Linked DNA regions of Homo sapiens: all the other regions are linked to region 1. Evidence: fine-mapped expression QTL. A gene starts in region 1. Each other region holds a variant in brackets. All regions are shown on one strand. Distances are from middle to middle. Region 1 holds the start of MAPK14 (mitogen-activated protein kinase 14). Region 2 overlaps MAPK14 (mitogen-activated protein kinase 14). Region 3 overlaps MAPK14 (mitogen-activated protein kinase 14). Region 4 has its middle 8.4 kb from the start of MAPK13.

Region 1 (5,199 bases):
GGTACTTCACTGTAAATCTGAATCTCCTGTTCCAGTGCAGAGCTAGTCACCAATAGTAGCGAACCCTTGCAAGCAATTCAATTGGAGTTCACCCAAACCCTCTATAGTTGAGTTATTCTGCTGTATCACTCCATTAAAATTTAAATAGCATTGAAAACGAAAACGTGATACTACAGAAATGTATGTCAATTCAAGAATGAAAAAATGGAAGTATATTAATGAGCTATAAAATATTAAAAGAGCAATGATCCAAATACGTCTTTGAAAATTAGCAAATCAACTAGATATATATAATATGTATATACTGAATGTATATACCTATATAATATGTATATACTGAATGTATATACCTATATAATATGTATATACTGAATGTAAAATGCTGCAAACCAACTACACACACACACTCTCTGAATGTAAAATGCTGCAAATTCCTTTAAAATGTAAACTGCCATGCTGTAAAAATGGGAGAAAGATGTCAAGCACGGTGCTATCTGCAACATAACTTAAGCAACTTGAACTAGAAAATGCAATATGATCTGTTGCTGGACACAATTGCACAATCTCAATTACCCAGAAGATTCTACCAAACAGGAAATTCATGATGTGACTTTGGGAAACACAGAAATCATATTTAAAGATTAACACATCCAAAAGCCTGGAATTTGTTCCAAAACAAAAAAACGATTTTACAGGCCCGTTTTCAAATGACGCATACAATACGAATTACTAAAACACAGAAAAAGCTAACAGTTAAATCTGATACTTAGTTTAAGATCCGTAGCTTTCAAATTATAGAAAATCTAAAATACAGGGTATAAAACCTTGGAAGTTAAGAGAGCAGTTAGTGAAATATTTCAGGTCTGGAAATTATATGCTATCGACTTAATTTAAAACACACTCACGGTGTAAATTAAAGCTAAAAAGTATCTCTTCCCTTCCTTTTCTATGTGGTTCCATATCCTTACGAAAACCATCGTGTACCTCAGGCCATAAATGCAGATAACTAGATAACTCCCTGCAAGCTCTCTAAGGGACTTTTAAAACACAGTATTCGCAGGAATTATCTCAAAAAATATTTACAATACCTCCCAGCACTGTTAATAACTTTTTGATCTTGAGGGCGCCTTACAGATCTGAATCTTTCTTGCTCCAAATGAGAAAATTGTTTTGTCGAACAATACTTAAATGAGCAGTGGTATGTGACTAATCAGTGAGCCTGCCAGTTTCTCAAGCTGCAGTGTTCTTGCAGGCACTACCACCGCCGCCCCTCCACGGAAAGGAAATACGCTTTCAACCGAATCGGAAACACACCACTCAAGCTGGCACAGTGCTCACCGAGATAAAGTCGGTATTTTAAGCTCTATGGATCGCTGTTAATTCAAGTGCGAATTCAAAAAGAACGCTTTTCAAGATGGGATTTCGACAGAGTTTTGAAAAAAAAAAAAAAAAAAAAAGGCCCGGAGAGAGCTCCCTTCCTGGTCAGTTTTGTTCAGATGACCGCAGTCTTCGGGTTGGGCTGTGCCCTTCTGCTTCTCCCGGCAGTTCCCCGAGCTTGTCTGCTCAGAGGACCCAGGGTCCGGAGCCCCAGCGTGGGCGCATCACGGGAGAGGGTCCTTCTGCTCCAGGTAGGCAGGGAGACCCCCAAGGAAGCGGCCCTTCCCCCGGTGCCTGTTGCCGAGCAGCAACCCTCCGAGAGGGGAAGGCGCAGGGTGCTAGCCAGAACCGAGCTCCAGCACCACCACCTACCTCTCGCAGCGGACCTGAGTGCTGCACACGGTGGACCGCATACCTGCGTGAGTGCAGGGCGAGGGGTGCTGGAGGTGCAGAACGGGCAGAGCTCGAAGGGGCAGCAATGCCCTCCCCCGAGGAAAATTCCTGCCACTTGACGCAACGCTGAGCAGTGGAGCAGGCCTGGCCCTCGGGCGCGAGGGGCCACCCTGCCCACAGCGGCCCCAGGCCCAGCGACACTCACCACACAGAGCCATAGGCGCCAGAGCCCACTGGAGACAGGTTCTGGTAACGCTCGGGCACCTCCCAGATTGTCTTGTTCAGCTCCTGCCGGTAGAACGTGGGCCTCTCCTGAGACATTTTCCAGCGGCAGCCGCCGGGCAAGAAGGTGGCCCTGTGGGGCCCCCGCCTGCACCCGCACCCTCTCCCCGGCCCTTGCTGCCCGCCCAGCCGGGCGGGGACCTTGCGCTGGTCGCCCGCGCAGGTGCGGCTGCCGCGACCCCGCAGACTCCCGCGCGCGCGGCTGCTGTCAGCCGCAGCGGCTGGATGTGCCCCTGCGACTGGGGCAAGCCCCGCTAAGGGCAGGGACGCGCTCCGGCGCTCAAGACTGCGCCCGCCGCGATCTCCCTGCACCTTCGCCCCTACAAGGCCGACTCCGGGCTGCGTCGCAGTACTCCCGTTCCAGCTGCTGCGCCCGCTAAGGCTCCAGTGGTCGCGGTTCCAAGAGCCAGCAAACGGGAGCCTCCCGCAGTACTCTCGCGAGAACAGCTCCCGGGACTCTCCGAGAGCCGAGATTTTACCCAATATGGAACCTCTCCGCGGGCGGGGCTTCGTGAGAGAAGAGGATGGGAGGAGCAGTTCTCGCGAGAAGAGAACAATAACTGGAGACCAAAGGCAGAAACTCCCAGGGACTGTCTCCTTAAGGGCGCGAAGGCGGACCGGGGAAGGAAGAGAGAAGCTGGCAGCACACGCCTCGCGCGCCTCACCGTGGCCGGCGGGGCAAATACCTGGCTCTGTGGTGGAAAACGACACTGACAAATAGCGTGTCGGGGAAAGAGTCAAAAGATCTTTAACTGCGAGTAGTTACCAGCAGCAGAGCACCTGCTCACCTGAACCCCCAAATTCCAAAAAACACTTGCATAAAAAAGAGACAAGTGGCCGGGCGTGGTGGCTCACGCCTGTAATCCCAGCACTTTGGGAGGCCGAGGCGGGCGGATCACCTGAGGTCGGGAGTTCGAGACCAGCCTGACCAACATGGAGAAACCCCGTCTCTACTAAAAATGCAAAATTAACCGGGCGTAGTGGCGCGCACCTGGAGTCTTAGCTATTCGGGAGGCTGAGGCAGGAGAATCGCTTGAACCCGGGAGGCGGAGTTGCGGTGAGCCGAGATCGTGCCATTACACTCCAGCCTGGGCAACAAGAGCGAAACTCCGTCTCAAAAGAAAGAAAGAAAGAAAGAGACAGGTTCCGGCCAGAAGGCTGTTGCATTCCCATCTGCTCAAGGACATATGGGTTACTCTTTGAGATGCTGACGAAATATGTCCCAAAGGCAAATGTTAACCCTGCATCAAAGCTGAGGCTTTCCAGGGGCTGGGCTCAGTGGCTCACACCTGTTATCCCAGCACTTTGGGAGGCCGAGGCGGGTGGATCACGAGGTCAAGCGATAGAGACCATCCTGGCCAACATGGTGAAACCTCGTCTCTACTAAAAAAAATACAAAAATTAGCTGGGCGTGGTGGCACGACCCTGTAGTCCCAGCTTCTCGGGAGGCTGAGGCAGGAGAATTGCATGAATCCAGGAGGCGGAGGTTGCAGTGAGCTAAAATCGCGCCACTGCACTCCAGCCTGGCGTCAGAGGGAGACTCCGTCTCAAAAACAAAAACAAAAACAAAAACAAACCGAAGCTTTACATTAAAACTCTCCCAGTTAAACTTACATGCAGAAAAATCACCCTGGGAGTTTAAGATGCAAGTTCCCAGAACTCACAGGGAGTCTAATTGGGTAGGTCAGAGGAGGTCTTGATCAAGAGCATGCATTTTTATAATACATCTTAGGTGATTCTGATTCAGGAAAGTCTCTGATATCTCCCTTTGAGAAGCATTTAAAAAACCGTTACACTGAAGATTTGAAACTGACTCCTATCCTGAAGAGCCATCAGTGAAGAGGATTTTAAGCATTTAACTCAGGCCTCTTCGAGTAAGGAGAATAGGGCAGGAGTCTCATCGAATTTAGGCAAGTCAACTGACCTTTCCTGAACCTCAGTTCCAGCTTCTACGAGAGAATTCCTGCCCTGCATTCCCGACTAACAGAGTCATTTGTAAAAACCAAACAAGATAAATGTGAATGGGCAAGGCATTCTAACCCCATGCCTACATCCATTATCAACCTATGCCTATGCTAAAGCTTGTTACAATGAGCAGAAGAATCAGATCCTGTCTCATTCTCTTAGTTTCTTGTATTAGAAATAACTAGATCCAAGCCAGGACATTTCTCAACATTTCCCGTGATTATTCTATTTTGTGTCATACACACCTTGGAGGGCTCAGACTTTGCATATCTTGTCCCAACATCTAGCACAATGTCTAGAACATAAAACATGTGTCATAAATATTTGTTGAAAAAATTATGAACAGTGACCATGATTTCAAGTGGTACAGTATCCTCAGTCCTCTTCAAGGAAAGCAATATAAAACCAAAAAACAGATAGTCATGGGTGATTCATGGAAAGCTGTTTTGGATCCAATGTAGCTTAGGCTGGAATTCTCTTATCTACAAAAACATGTTGCTTGAGAATGTTCCAAACTAGGGAGGATAGGAAGCTTTCTAAGAAGTAATGGAGGGTGAAGGGGAAGTAAGAGCAAAAACATGATTGTGAAGACATGAGGGATGGGGTTGGGGGGATCAAGGGAATGAGGGAATGGTTACAAAGGGTGAGGAGGAAGCTTGGAAGTAGGAATCCTCAGAAATGCACATTTTTATCCTACAAATTGGGATGATGAGGTGAGGGTGAATGAAAGGGTAAAGATAAAGTAAGCAGTATATTCATACACTCATTCAACCAATGTGTATTAAATGCCTACTAGGTGTCAAACACTTGCAGTTTAAAAGTGATTAAAAACTACAGTTGCTGCCGGTGTGGAGCTTACAATCAATGGGAGGGCAATCATTCAACAAAAATTAATTGAATACTTCCTATGTCCACCACACTGCTGTAGGCACTGATAATAAAACAGTTAATGAAAGGGATAAAAGTCCTTGCCCTCATAGGGGTAAGATGATTTACAAAAAGGAATACATAAAGTGCATTATAAGGTAGACATTAACACAGTCATCAAACAAACAAGTGTAAAACTGTAACTGGGCCAAGCAGGAATACAAGGTGGAGTGAGAGACAGTGCTAGGGACAGGGATAGGGTGGGAGGAGGGTAAAGGGAGTGAGTGCAGATGGCATGTCTGCATCCAGAGCAGA
Region 2 (5,182 bases), 62 kb before region 1:
AAACACAGAATGACCATACTCCATGGAAAAACACACAACATAAAATAAAAATCTTAGTAACTAAAAGCATTTGCATGAAGGAAGTTAAAACATGCAAACCTCAGAAGAAATCACCATGGGTTCTTCAAAAGCTGGCAAATCCACTGAAATACAGGCCAGTCTTCCAACAGTACCAGCTACTATAAGGCCACTATGATTTGTCCAGGCAGTTAAGACCAGAAGGAGCGTCACGTAGCCACATTAGCGGAGTAAAGCAAAACTCACCACATCATGACAATCAGTTATTTCCACAGTGAGCCATCCTTTGTAATAGGTTTAGCCCTGTTTCTCTTAGGTAGAAAATATTTTTACTATTAGTTTAAAATGTGTTTTAATTGTAATGATCACAACGTCAAAATTTAAATCATAAATCTCCTGAATCTTTCTAAAACAAATGAAGAAAAGAACAACTTAAGCCTAAGATTACTCTTTAGACGAAGTCATCTTTAACAGAAGCAAGTCAGTCAGAATGAACAGGTAAAGAAAAAAAAAAACAAAAAAACTAAGCATAACAGGATATTTCTAGGGAAAGTAAAAGAGGGATATTCTAGTCAGTTCTAAGTGCTCCAGGCACTCCTAAAAAACCTCCACAGGCCAGAAAGTTGAAGATAAATAAAAGGACCAATTGCAGGACCTACCTGCCATGAGCAGTAATTTTCAAAGACATAAATCCACATAGGGGTGAAGTGGAGCACTAACCTTTGGGAAGGTAGGAAATCTTCCTGGTGACAGACAGGATAGACTAGAATAAGACTTAGCCTAGCTCCTTATCTTCCAAGTTGTCAAAATAGTCATTTTCACTGTAACACAAAGAAAATTTCTTAAGGGACCCTTGGTTTATGGACAAATCTGAGGATTCTACCTTTTCCTGAGAAAATGTATTTTCAAGTTAGAGAGGAAAGGGCAAATAACCTAATAAAATATTTTTCTTCTTCAGCATTTATTGGACACTTGCTTTTGGTGTCTAAAGTGAAACTGCTTTTTAAAAATGAGAGAACATCCAGGCTGGCCAACATGGCAAAATCCTGTCTCTACTAAAAATACAAAAATTAGCCGGGCGTGATGACGTGCACCTGTAATCCCAGCTACTCGGGAGGCTGAGGCAGGGAGAATCGCTTGAACACGGGAGGTGGAGGTTGCAGTGAGCAGAGATTGCGCCATTGCACTCCAGCCTGGGCGACAGAGCGAGACTCTGTCTCCAAAAAAAAAAAAAAAGAGAGAGAGGGAGAATATTTGGCAGGGTGCAGTGGCCACACCTGTAATCCCAACATTTTGGTAGGCCAAGGCGGGCAGATCACTTGAGGTCTGGAGTTCTAGACCAGCCTCAGGAGGTGGAGGTTGCAGTGAGCCGAGATTGCGCCACTGCATTCCAGCCTAGGCAACAGAGTGAGACTCCATCTCAAAAAAAAAAAGAAAGAGTATTTGAAACCAATGACTGAAAGTGATGGGCAGATGTGAGAGAAGGGTCTCCAGAAGCTTTAGCTCTATTGCCAGTGTTTTAACTCACAAGCAGGACAGTATGAACAGAGGTGTTTATTATTCTTTGTCTAGCAGTATGTCTGAAATATTTCAAAACATGTTTGCAAAAGAAGAAATAAAAAAAAATATATAAGAAGCAAATTTAATACACTAGGAAAACTCCCATAGACCAGGGCAGTAACTGATGGCAAGTGGATTTTAACTCAGCTCCATTAACCCATTATGTCTTAAGAGCACCATTTCTGTTAAAATTAAAGAAGGTTTTACACATAAGGAAATTCACTTGATTATGGAGAAAAGGAAAACAACAGCAAGCCAAGGCTGTGATCTCTGGTAGAAAAACGGTATTTGATGCATAACAGGGCTATAAAACTTTCTCTCTTCCTTAAGCTGCAGAGTGTTAAGCGTTGGTAACAGAATTTTCAAAGTGGCTTATTCATTTCAAGATCTATGGTATTTGAAATAAGTTAGTACTGTACCTGAAGAGACATTCTGTATCCTCCCTCCTTTCTAGTACAAAGTTCTGTCAGCTGTGTCCACTTGATATCCCTAGTCAACTAGGCTTTTAAGAAAGGGCTTCATTCTTTAAAAAATAATAATGCTATCATTAGGCCAGATGGAAGGGTTCTGCAAAGTCACAAACAAGAATAATTTCTAATCTGATAACACATTATTGGCTTTAAGACAAAAATGAGTATTTCTTATATTTTTTTAAAATTAAATTAAAGTTCTGAGATACAAGTGCAGGATGTGCAGGTTTGTTACATAGGTAAATATGTGCCATCGTGGTTTGCTCCACCTATCAATCCATCACCTAGGTGTTAAGCCCCGCATGCCTTAGCTATTTATCCTGATGCGTTCCCTCCGCCTGACCCCCACCCCACCAACAGGCCCCAGCGTGTGTTGTTCTCCTCCATGTGTCCATGTGTTCTCATTGTTCAGCTCCCACTTGTGAGAACATGTGGTGTTTGGCTTTCTGAGGAAAATGGCTTCAAGCTCCATCAGTGTCCCCGCAAAGGGCACAATCTCATTCATTTTTATGGGTGTATAGTATTCCATGGTGTATATGTACCATGTTTTTTTATCCAGTCCATCACTGATGGGCATTTGGGTTGATTCCATGTCTTTGCTATTCTGAATACTGCTGCAATCAACATACACATGCATGTATCTTTGTAACAGAATGATTTATATTCCTTTGGGTATATACCCAGTAATGGGATTGCTGGGTCAAATGTTATTTCTGGTTCTAGGTCTTTGAGGATTTCACCAGTCTTCCACAATGGTTGAACTAATTTACATTCCTACCAACGGTGTAAAAGTGTTCATATTTCTCCATAGCCTCACCAGCATCTGTTGTTTCTTGACTTTTTAATAATCACCATTCTGACTAGCATGAGACAGTATCTCATTGTGGTTTTCATTTGCATTTCTCTAATGGTCAGTGACACTGAGCTTTTTTTCATGTTTGTTGGCTGTATAAATGTCTTCTTTTGAGAAGTGTTTGTTCATGTCCTTTGCCAATATTTTTTTTTTTTTTTTGAGACGGAGTCTC[G/A]CTCTGTCGCCCAGGCTGGAGTGCAGTGGTGTGATCTCGGCTCACTGCCAGCTCCGCCTCCTGGGTTCACGTCATTCTCCTGCCCCAGCCTCCTGAGTAGCTGGGACTACAGGCGCACACCACCATGCCTGGCTAATTTTTTGCATTTTTAGTAGAGATGGGGTTTCGCCAAATTAGTCAGGATGATCTCGATCTCCTGACCTCGTGATCCACCTGCCTCAGCCTCCCAAAGTGCTGGGATTACAGGCATGAGTCACTGTGCCTGGCCCTTTGCCAACTTTTTAATGGGTTTTTTCCTTGTAAATTTGTTTAAATTCCTTGTAGATTCTGGATATTAGACTTTTGTCAGATGGATAGATTGCAAAAACTGTCTCCCATTCTGTAGGTTGTCTGTTCACTCTGACGATAGTTTCTTTTGCTGTGCAGAAGCCCATTTGTCAGTTTCTGCTTTTGTTGCCATTGCTTTTGATGTTTTCATCATGAAATTTTTGCCCATGTCTATGTCCTTAATGATATTGCCTAGATTTTCTTCTAGGGTTTTTATCGTTTTGGGTTCTACATTTAAGTCTTTAATCCATCTTGAGTTAATTTTTGTATAAGGTGTAAGGAAGGGGTCCAGTTTCAATTTTCTGCACATGGCTAGCCAGTTCTCCCAGCACCATTTATTAAATAGGGAATCCTTTCCCCATTGCTCGTTTTGTCAGGTTTGTTGAAGATCAGATGGTTGTAGATGTGCAGTTTTATTTCTGAGATCTCTATTCTGTTCCATTGGTCTGTTTTTGTACTAGTACCATGCTGTTTTGATTACTGTAGCCTCGTAGTATAGTTTGAAGTCAGGTAGTGTGATGCCTCCAGGTTTGTTCTTTTTGCTTAGAATTGTTTGGGCTATATGGACTCTTTTTTGGTTCCATATGAATTTTAAAGTTTTTTTCTAATTCTGTGAAGAATGTCAACAGTAGTTTAATGGGAATAGCATTAAATTTATAAATTACTTTGGGCAATATGGCCATTTTCATGATATTGATTCTTCCTATCCATGAGCACAGAATGTTTTTCCATTTGTTTGTGTCCTCTCTGATTTCCTTCAGCAGTGGTTTGTAGTTCTCCTTGAAGAGGTCCTTCACTTCCCTTGTTATTAATAGCTATAGTTCTGGGTATTTTATTCTCTTTTAGCAGTTGTGAATAAGAGTTCATTCATGATTTGGCTCTCTGCTTGCCTACTGTTGGTGTATAGGAATAGTTGTGATTTTTGCACTTTGATTTTGTATCCCGAGACTTTGCTGAAGTTGCTTATCAGCTTAAGAAGCTTTTGGGCTGAGACAACAAGGTTTTCTAGATATAGGATCATGTCACCTGCAAACAGAGTTTTACTTCCTCTCTTCCTATTTGAATACCCTTTCTTTCTTTCTTTTGCCTGATTGCCCTGGCCAGAATTTCCAATACTATGTTGAATAGGAGTAGGGAAAGAGGGCATCCTTGTGCCAGTTTTGAAGGGGAATACTTCCAGCTTTTGCCTATTCAGTAAGATACTGGCTGTGGGTTTGTCTTACATGGCTTATTTTGAGGTATGTTCCATCAACACCTAGTTTACTGAGAGTTTTTAACATGAAGGGATGTTGAATTTTATTAAAGGCCTTTTCTGCATCCATTGAGATAATCATGTGGTTTTTGCCTTTAGTTCTGTTTATGTGATCAATTATGTTTATTGATTTGCATATGTTAAAACAGCCTTGCATCCCAGGGATGAAGCTGACTTGACCGTGGTGGATGGATAAGCTTTTGACATGCTGCTGGATTTGGTTTGCCAGTATTTTACTGAGGATTTTTGCATCGATGTTCATCAGGGATATTGGCCTTAAGTTTTCTTTTTCTGTTGTATTTCTGGCAGGCTTTGGTATTGGGATAATACTGGCCTCATAAAATGAGTTATAGGGGAGTCCCTCCTTTTGTATGTTTGGAATAGTTTCAGAAGAAATGGTACCAGCTCTTCTTTGTACCTCTGGTAGAATTTGGCTGTAATCTGTCTGGTCCTGGGCTTTTCTTGCTTGGTAGGCTATTTATTACTGCCTCAATTTGAGAACTTGTTATTGGTAGATTCAACGTTTTCCT
Region 3 (5,203 bases), 29 kb before region 1:
AAAAAAAGAGTCAGGATCTCACTCTTGACACACAAGCTAGAGTACAGTGACACCATCACAGTTCACTGCAGCTCAAGCAATCCTGTCTCAGCCTCCCAAGTAGCTGGGACTATAAGCACGTGCCACCACCATGCCTAGCTAATTTTTCTTTTTTTGTACAGATGTGTCTCACTAGATTGCCCAGGCTGGTCTTGACCTTCTGGCCTCAAGCGATCCTCCCACTTCAGCATCCCAAAGTGCTGGCATTACAGCAGTGAGCCACCACGGCCAGCCACGTCTCAATCATTTTAATAGGAACTAATTCAAAACCAGCTACCTCAGTTCCATAACATCACATCATATACTTAATAACTCCAACTAATTTTCTACCCAAATTATGCTTTTGTTTTCTACTTGTTAACATCAATTCTCATATTAACCCACTTTACCATTAAAAATCTTCATCTCTTTAGAATTTATTCATATGTAGTCAGTAGTTTATCAGAAGGCAAAAAGATTTAGGGTCCTTGCCTTACGTATGTACTAATGGTCTAATGAATTAATCCAACAGGTGAAAAAGGTCACACATCCATGGTTGTTACCGTAATATTGTGTTTTTTAAAAATGTATTCCACGAAAAATTTCCATATTAACTGTATATGCTTCAAAACTGACATTTTTAAAGTCTCAAAATATTCTCAGTATATTCTTGGTATTATTCTCACAAAGTCTTAATGTATAGGGTATTTAAATCAGACAATTTAAAAATGAAAAAAAAAGTCTATTTTTACACAGGGATAAAGCAAAGAGCTACTTAATACTCAATAACCCATGGTCTTTGAGCAGTTTTTCTGATCAGGAATTTATACTGATTTATCCACATACAGCACCCTCCAACCCCTACCTCCCATCTATTTTCCTTAAAACCCAGGCCATTCATTTCTACAAAGTTAGGCATTGACAAGGCAAATAAGAAATATATAATTCATTTGTAATACGCCCAGCCATATTTGAGAGTATCTGGTTATGAAGCAAGACTGTGGCCTCACTAGCACACTGTTCTAAACTGCCAACTTAAACACAAAGCTCTAGAAGTAAGATATGTTAACACTCAAAACATTATCATGAAAAAGATCTTCTAATTAGGATGTTACTCCACTCATCCAAATATCAGACTTTTTTTTTTTTCTTTGAGACAGAGTTTCGCTCCTGTTGCCCAGGCTGGAGTGCATGGCACAATCTCAGCTCACTGCAACCTCTGCCTCCTGGGTATAAGTGATTCTCCTGCCTCAGCCTCCCGAGTAGCTGGGATAACAGGCATGCACCACCACGCCCGACTCCAAATGTCACTTTTTAAAAGCAACTTTAATTTTACAGTCTGAACCTGAAAAGGAGGTGGTGGGACACATACTTGGAATTCAAGAATAGGTTTCAAGTCCTTGAAAATTGTTCCAAAGGAAATAGAATCACTTTCAGATCTTACCCAGACAACAGTACATAAGAAAACCAAAATTACCCATAATTATACCACCCATTATAACTATCATTAACATTTTGAGATATATTTCCTTTGATTTTCTGATGTACATAAATTAAATTGGGGTTACACCATGCATAGTTTTATATCCTGCCTTTTTACTTAATATTTAAATATTTGTATACAGCATATCTATCATTTGTGTATACCATAACTTAACCAATTTCCTATCTCTAGACATTTAAGGAATACTGCAAGAAAAATATATGTATTTTGCACATCTCATATTTTCTTCCAGGAAATAAATTTCAAGAAACAGAATTACAGAATCAAAGGACACCAATATATTTAAGGATCTTAATATTGTCAAATGGTCCTCCATAGAGGTAAGGCCAACTTACATGCCTCCCAATAGAGTACCTGTGACCTCATTCACAATAGTGCTTTAAATTTAAGTCAAATCCATTTCCTTTTACCTTCTCCATCTAAACCATAATCGTTTCCCTTGAGTTTGGTATACTCCTGGCTTAAGACCTCTGGTCTTTTAATCACTCTCCCTTATACCCACTTCTACTTAAGGTAACTGAGGTCTAGAAGCTAACTTTATTCACCGTTCCAATATTTTCTAATCAATGATTCTTGTTATCTGAGATGCCCATCTCCTCAAAACAATAGAAAAGTTTAAAACTATTTACATTGTTTTACAGTGTTTCCATTGTGATTGTGAAAATCCTCCTATGGAAATAAAACTAAATCATTAGAGATCTGATTTACACATGCAAGAGTTACCTCAAAAGACAAAA[G/A]TCAAAACTATTTTCAAATAAAAACTCCAATTTCAAACTGAAAACACAACAGACATTTTGGAACCAAGCAGCTGTAAGTTTGAACCCCAGTATCAGTTTGTGATTTCTTGGGTCCAAGAGCTTATAATTTCTTCATTCCAATAACGCTGGCACTTGGAATGGAGCCTGGCATTCAGCAGGAGTTCAATGAATGGCTGTTATGTAAATAATAATTGGCAAATACATTTGGTATCTTCTCTGAGTCCCATTTTCCTCATATGAAAAACATGAGGACATCATTGCTTATTTTCACAGTACTGACAGCAAGACTGAGCAGACAATGTATCTGAAGGTGCCTAGTACAAAAGGCTGACCCACTGTGGATCATCAAAATAAGTGGTGACCACAGCCCACACAGTTGAATAGACAATTACAAAATACAATATACCTAAGCAAACTATCTGAAGCAGCTACTTCCATTAACAGAATATGAGACATAAAGCTCAACTATTCAAATGATTAAAAACCATGACTGCAAGAAGAAAAATAAAGTAACCTGAAAAAAAATAGAGAAAAGCCAACTAGTAAATACCCTACCAAATTTTAATTTCCTAAAAAGGGCAATATTTACAATATTTAATGTGTTTAACATAAGCACACCGAAAATAACAATTTTGAGATTAAAACTACCCATGCTAAATCAAAGTACTTAAATTTTTGATGGGTTTTTACAAAATATCCCTCACTCCATTAATCATACTTATGAATATTAATCATAAGGAAAATACTGTAAAACAAAAGCTTATCAGCATTAAAATAGATCTGGAAAATATTTTAGGAATCTATTCATTTCTCATTTCTTTTTTTTTTTTTTAATATAATAATAGAGACTGGTTTTTGCCATGTTGCCCAGGCTGGTCTCAAACTTCTGGGTTCAAGCAATCCACCCACCTTGGCCTCCCAAAGTGCTAGGATTACAGGCATGAGCCACTGCGCCCAGCCATTTCTCATTTCTTAAATGGAAATTCCCTTCTAAATCAAGTCATATTTTAGTCTATTTCCTTAACTCCTTCTGCTGTTACATGACTTCAGTCACCTCAAAGTAACCCAGGAATCAAATTTTTAGAAAAGACATTCATAATACAAATAAGCAGCAAATATCTCTAATGATTATCCCATCATGGTCCAAAGCCTGGCAAATATTAAGTCGTATTTTTATTAAATTAGCACACATCCAAAAAAAAATACTTTAACTCAGTATCCAGAGACAATATTTAGCATATTTAACAAAAGCACACCAAAACAATCTCTTGGTCTACAATGGTAAGGTTAAATCTAAGGCTCCCAAATAAAATTTACAAAACAATTTCCTTGATCATTTTTAAATTCTAAAATGTACAGATCTCTAGGCCCATATATGGGCCATCTCTGTAGTGTCTGCCCAGACAGCAAAGGATGCAGCTGGCAGGCTGCCTCCCTTTAATCTTTCCTTAGAGCAGGTGTTAACGAGATCAAGGTCAGAAGTTCAATCAGGAATGGTCCAACTAACTTTGTTCAGAGAGAAACTCTCACAGTCACAGAGGACATCCCCTAGCTTCAGTCACTCACCTAATAAATGTTTATCTATTATTCATGATCACTAACAGAAGAGACAATTCAAGATGAACTACCGATTGTGGGTCAGAGGCATTTTTGTGTAAAAGATCACATGTGCCCTCTGGCACCTGAAAATTGTATTTGTTACCAACACCTAAAATGTTCACAAGTTTTAAGCGCCTGTTGCTGCTGCCTGTGGGAGGTTTGGCCGCTATAAAAATTGGATGGTGACCCAAAACAGTAATTTTTTAAAAAAGAAGAGGAGGGTAAACGAGATGAATTTCTCTGAAAACCCTCAATTAAACTTACCGGAAGTTTTGGTTCTTTATTGGGTAAAACTACTTTGACATTATAAGCACCTAACAAATGTTTTCAAAATAGGCTAAAATGCAGGAATTTTTCTACATTGAGTCAAGTCTTTTGGCTTCAAACATTTGCCAATGGAATAGAGAACTATGAGACATTCAGCCATGTGCCTTATTTTGTTTAAATAACAAATCACTGATATCTAGGTGACCACCAACTGTTAGAACTTAAACATCTTTATATAAAAAAAAGACTGCTAGTAAGCAAGCCACTTATAAAACAATGTATAGAAATTAAAATCCTATTTTTCTAATACCATGATCCCTAAACATTGGCTTAACATATTTATGAAGAAAAGCAAAACAATCAGTGTAGCACTGATAATCTCCTAAACCAGATGTTCTTAAATTAGCATAGCCACATCAATAGGATCCTAGTGGCTCCCAAAGGTGCTCTGGGGTTCCATAAATGTTTGGCTTGCATTTCACTTTCAAAATATCCTTTATACTTGCAAAGCTGTGACACTGTCTCTGTCACATATAATAATGTGTAATGAAAAACAGCATACACACTTAAATGTGTTAAAAATCAAACGCAAACACATCCCTTAAAGCTGCCAGGCCACTTTGATTTTATGCAGACCTAGGAATAAAGTTTCTGCTGCCAGCTTTTTCCGCATATCTCAACTTCTTGTAAACATGTCACTGATTAGGAAGGCTGCAGCTTCACACTGAACATTCTTAAAACTCTGGTTTGCACATAGCTACTTAAGTAAAATTATACTCAGGAATAGAAGTTGTCTGTAGAAATAGGATTTCCTCAATAGCATACAATCAAAATAAAATGTGAAAATAAAAAGCAGCAGCTGTGATTATAATGGCATCCATAATCCAATTACAAATTTAAGTCTTAATGTTCTCAATTTAGAAGAAATTTGCACTAATGAAACAAATGTACGCTAATGAAGAGTCACTTATCTGTGACTTTTTTCTCGCTATGAAGAAGTTAAATTACTAAAACAGTCTAAATAGTCAAATAATAAATTCACAGATTTTGAATTTTC
Region 4 (5,000 bases), 94 kb before region 1:
TCTCCCCATTACCTCTTCCCCTTCTCAGGGGCAAGGGCTGGTCAGCAGACTTAGGGCTCAAGCAGAACATCCATCCCAGCAGCAAAAGATAAGGCACCATCAGCCAGGTGCGGTGGCTCATGCTTGTAATCCCAACACTTTGGGAGGCCGAGGCAGGCAGATCACCTGAGGTCAGGAGTTCGAGACCTGCCTGGCCAACAAGGTGAAACCCTATCTCTACTAAAAATACAAAAATTAGCCGGGCATGGTGGTGCTTGCTTGTAATCCCAGCTACTTGGGAGGCTGAAGCAGGAGAATCACTTGAACCCAGGACGCAGAGGTTGCAGTGAGCCGAGATCGTGCCACTGCACCCCAGCCTGGGCAACAAGAGTGAAACTGCATTTCAAAAAGAACGAAAGGAAGGCAGGAAGGAAGGAAGGAAGGAAGGAAGGGAGGGAGGGAGGGAGGGAGGGAGGGAGGGAGGAGAGAGAGAGAGAGAAAGAGAGACAAGAAAGAAAAGGCACCCTCCCCCACTCCCCTGCACCTCCTCCACCTCCTCCTCTCTCCCCTCCTTCAGCTTTAGCACCCCCTGGTGGAAGACGGGGGTGGGGACAGCTCTGTGAGTCGGGCACCTCTCAGCCAGCCTTCTGGGTTCGGGATGACAGGCTTCCCCTCTTCACACCTCCCTCCCCACACCATCCGGTCCACACTCCCCGTTCCACTCCACCCCTAAGGCCTGCCTCCCTGCACCCAGCCCACATGTCACCCTCCACTCCACCCTACAAAGATGTGGCTGGGGTAAGGTCTGGTGCCCAGGCCTCCGCTCTGTTTGATCTCGGCCTTGTCCTTGGTAGCATTCAGCATAATATTAATCTGCATTGTCTCCTGTGACATGTCCCTCTCCACCTCTGGACAATGACTCTGTAAGGGCGAGGGCAGTATTCTGGCCACTGCTGAGCCCCCTGGCACTGTGCCTGGCCCATTGTAGCTGCTCAGTAAAGACTTAGTGACTGAACCAACCAAGGAGTTTTGTGTCTCTTCTGGGTACTACCCATAGGAGGAAGATGTGGCTTGAAGACCCAAATGGTGGGACCGAGTAAGCAATAGTAGGGGAATATGCTTGGCTAGCCTACCACAGGGTGGGATCTGGGATGTGTGGTCACTGTTCAGTCTGATACAATCTGTCCTAGGATGTTTCTGATTTTGCTGTTCTTCCCTTGCTCCCTGAGGGAAGGCCTAGAGGCCTCATCCTTGTGGGGCCCCCAAGGTCCTAGCATGAGGCTGGACCTTCGTATGGTGGTGAAAGAACCAGAGTGTACAACCTGAATCTGAGGCCTCTTCTCTTGCCACGAATTTGCACCATCCACTCCAAAGCAGGTTCCTCCCTGTGGACAGCCCTCCTCACCACTCCCACTGAAGCTCTGCATGAGCCAGATCCTCTCCCTATGGAATTGTCCACCTTTCCTTCCTTCCTCTTTCCTTCCCTCCCTCCCTCTCTCCCTCCCTTCCTTCTTTCCAAGCCTAACTCTAAACTCACATCTACAAGGAGGTGTTCCCGAGTGAACTCTAGATCCACTCACCCCACTAACCCTGTGCATATCCCTCTCCCCAAGACCCCCACTGCACACCACCCGCTTCCCCCTCCACAGGCTTTGTGACGTCCACATTCTTGAAGCGTGCTTGTACTCCTGTGAGCCAGTAGAGAGGTAGCTGAGTTCTGGGAGACAGGGCTGAGTCTGAATCTCGTGCCTCCATTTGTAGCTACAGGTGGAGCTTCCTCATCAGTAAGATGGGAGAATGTCACTTGCATAGCCAGGGACACCAGGAGGGTTTACTGAAGCAACACATGCCAGGTTGCAGGCATTGTGCATGGTGCTCCCTCTGGTCCTTCAGGACTGCTCATGTGTCACCTCCTCCGAGGTCCCCCTGACCTCATTACAAGCCATGCTCACCTGCCTTACCTGGCCTCGTGTTCTTCAAGCCCTGTGTACCTGTTTATTGTCTGCCCCCCTCTAATAGAATGTCTTGAGGTTGGCGAGGGTAGGGGCTTTGTCTATTTTGTTCATCACTGAATTCCACGTACCTGGAAGAGTGCCTGGCAGCCGGTGACTGGCCGAATGGCAGGGATGTAGCAGGGCCTTATCCCCAGCAGCCTTGTTATCGCTGCATCTCTGTCTGTGTGCAGCTGATATGCAGGCCCAACTCACCTTCGTGCCTGGGGCAGTCTCTGCTGTGCTGACCTGACAAACCGCAGTAATGGAGTCAGGTCCTGCCTGGACTCCTGTGTGCAGCCTGCCTCAGGCAGGAGAAGCTGTGCACCCTGGAGGCCACCTCCACAACCTGCCTGTCCAGGGCAGAGGCCAC[A/G]GGGTCTCCTTGCTCCACCCCTTCTAAGTAAACTATCCAATGTCAGGACACATAGATCCTCCCCAGAAGCCCTATGGACCTTGGTCAGGGGCAAATAACCCCAAACAAGACTAGCAGGGCTACCTGCCATGGCAGAGGTTTGGGCTCTGATTCTAGCTCTGTCTCTAATTTGCTGTGTGACCTTAGGTAAGTCAGACTGCCTCTCTGGATACATTCATTTTCTATTATATGCATTTAATAAACATGGAAAGAGCACTAATTACTTCCCAAAAGTTGTTATAAGAGCTTTACATACATGTAACTTAATCCTCCTGAGGACTCTATGAGATGGGTTAACAGTATCCCCCATTTTATGTATAACAATGAGACACAGAGAGGTGAAGTGACTTGCCCAAGGACACACAGCTAGTAAGCACTAGAGCTGGGAGTGAAGACCAGGTAGTCTTGCCCAGGGTCAGTGCTAGTAACCACTATGCTTAGCTGCGCTGGATGATGCTTGTGAAAGGCCAATCTTTTGTAAGAAATAAAATTAAGTAGAAAGAACATTGCAAGACCCTGTCTCTAAAAAAATAAGAGTCACAGAGAGCTCCAGGACACCACTGTCACTGTCAGCCCGAGCACAGGTGTGGCAACAGGGATGAGTAAGGGGCTGTGGAGGGGAAGCCACCCTGATCCTGGTGACTACACTTCCCTGACAAACAGCTTCTCCCTGCTTCTCAGGCCTGGTCTTCACTCCCTCACACTTGCCCAGGGCTGCCCTTCCTAAGCCAGGGGGCACCCGGATCCAGCTTTGGTCACCTGGAAAGAGGGTGCTCCAGCTGGGCAGCTTGAGGGCAGCACAGCTCCCATGTGACAGGCAGCCAGCGGCAGGCAGCCCAGCTGTGATTAATCTTCCTGTTTCAGAGCAGCCCTGCCTCCCCATAACGCCCCACCCCCGGTAGCTCTCAGTGGCCTCTAGGATAAAGATTAAACTTCTTAGTCTGTTGGGCAAGGCTTGCCCCCATCCGGACAGGCCCTGCCTTTCTTGCTAATCGGATCCTCCAAGGTGTCTGTGCCCAGGCAACCTCCATTCTAGCGATCCGCAAGCGTGCCTTCCTCATCCCTGTCACCACGTCTTTGCTTGAGCTGTTTGTGACCTGTCTGGAATACCATCCTCTGCTTTGCCAAGGAGGGGGGGTGGGGCATCCTCGTTCCTTACAACCTGCTCAGCAGCTCTTCCTGGGCTGGCTTTGCCAGGCCACTCTCACCAGCACCCTTAGACTTGGAATTCTCAGTTAACTTTCAAACAAACCTAAATTGTAAGTTCTTGAGGGCACGAGTGTCTTATTTTTCTCTATCCTCCTTACCTACCTGGTGATTAAGGTAAAGCCTTAATCCATTCAACCAAATTTTGCCAGGCACCTCTCAAGACATTGAGAATACACGGACAAATGTCACAGTTCCTGTGCTTGAGAAGCTCCTACCCTAGTGAGGGCGGCAACAGGAAACAGTGACAACACTGTCGTCGGCAGGTGGGAGTGTCAACTGGGGCAAGCTTTTAGAACCATTTGGCAATGCTGCCAAAGTGTCAAAATGTGCACCTTGTTAATCCGGTAATCCCATAGCCATCAATTTAGTGAAAACGCGAAAACAGCCGGGGGATACACACTTATCACCGCATTGCTCATCATCTGTATCAATAAAGAAAAGTTTCCAGCATCATGGTGGGGGGTGGCGGTGGTGGTGGGGGAAGAGGAAAAGGAAACACACTGCTTGGATGAATTGTCTCAGATTTGGAGAGTATGTTCCGGATGGCCAGCCTTAACAAATATAGACTAAGTGCTGAGGGTGAAATTCACTTGGCTGGTGGGGGTGGGAGGAGGAGTGAAGGTCCTTGTCAAGGCAGAACGCTGAGATGTTTCACACACATGCCATATTCACTTCTGATATTTTAAAAATAGAACATCATAGATACTCATCATCATGATGAAAACGGTGACAAAAACATATAGTTCTTACTATGAGCCACACACTGTTCTAAGTGCTCTACATTGGTTAACGTATTTAACCCTCACCACAATCCTGTGAAGAAGGCACTATTATCAATATCATCCCATTTTACAGTTGTGATAACTGAGGCCCCGATTGATCAAGCAACCTGCGGAGGTTACACAGTGTCAGTGGTGGAACCGGGATTAGAACCTAAGCTGTCTGGCTCTTGGCAGCTGAAGCCCTTTCATGCCCCTCTCTGATTCCATGCCCTCTCTCCCTCCCTAGAGGTGACCCCTCTACAAGTTGGTGTTTATTATTCTCGTCTGCTTTTAGTTTTACTATATACGTATGCATCTGTAAACGATGCCAGATAGATCGTTTTGCAGCCTCCTTTTTCACTTAAGGTTGTTGGTGAGATCTGCCAAGATGTTGAGTCGTCTCTGTTTCTCAGCCTCGGCACTGCTGACATGTTTCTGCTGGGTAATTCCTCGTTGTGGGGGCCGTCCTGTGCGTCGCAAAATGTTCAGCAGCATCCCTGGCCTCTACCCACTAGATGCTCACCACCCTCACCTCCAAGTGTGACAACTAAAAAGGTCTCCAGACATTGCCTATTGTTCCTGGGACAGAGGCAAAATCAGGGGTCTGGGGTGGTGGTGGGGGAATCATTCTAGTTCATTTGTCTTCAC

Evidence for each region.
Region 2: its variant is fine-mapped to the expression of MAPK14 in whole blood (TOPMed, PIP 0.98).
Region 3: its variant is fine-mapped to the expression of MAPK14 in whole blood (INTERVAL, PIP above 0.99).
Region 4: its variant is fine-mapped to the expression of MAPK14 in whole blood (INTERVAL, PIP 0.97).

The regions. Positions count from the first base shown.
Region 1 is chr6:36,025,050-36,030,248 of GRCh38, reverse strand. It overlaps MAPK14 (mitogen-activated protein kinase 14), which reads right to left and starts at 2,441. Exons shown (of 12, transcript NM_139012.3): 1 at 1,976-2,441. The coding sequence starts at 2,091. RefSeq lists silencers at 443-737, 2,101-2,200 and enhancers at 2,391-2,830, 5,162-5,199.
Region 2 is chr6:36,086,600-36,091,781 of GRCh38, reverse strand. All of the region lies in intron 8 of MAPK14 (mitogen-activated protein kinase 14), which reads right to left. Among named protein-coding and RNA genes, the nearest start is that of MAPK13, 41 kb to the left of the region's middle. The variant G/A (reference allele first, on the strand shown) is at 3,074.
Region 3 is chr6:36,053,687-36,058,889 of GRCh38, reverse strand. The region is part of intron 2 of MAPK14 (mitogen-activated protein kinase 14); the gene reads right to left. Among named protein-coding and RNA genes, the nearest start is that of MAPK14, 28 kb to the right of the region's middle. The variant G/A (reference allele first, on the strand shown) is at 2,260.
Region 4 is chr6:36,119,582-36,124,581 of GRCh38, reverse strand. It overlaps a transcript of MAPK14 not described here. Among named protein-coding and RNA genes, the nearest start is that of MAPK13, 8.4 kb to the left of the region's middle. RefSeq lists enhancers at 619-668, 729-778 and a silencer at 3,865-3,914. The variant A/G (reference allele first, on the strand shown) is at 2,344.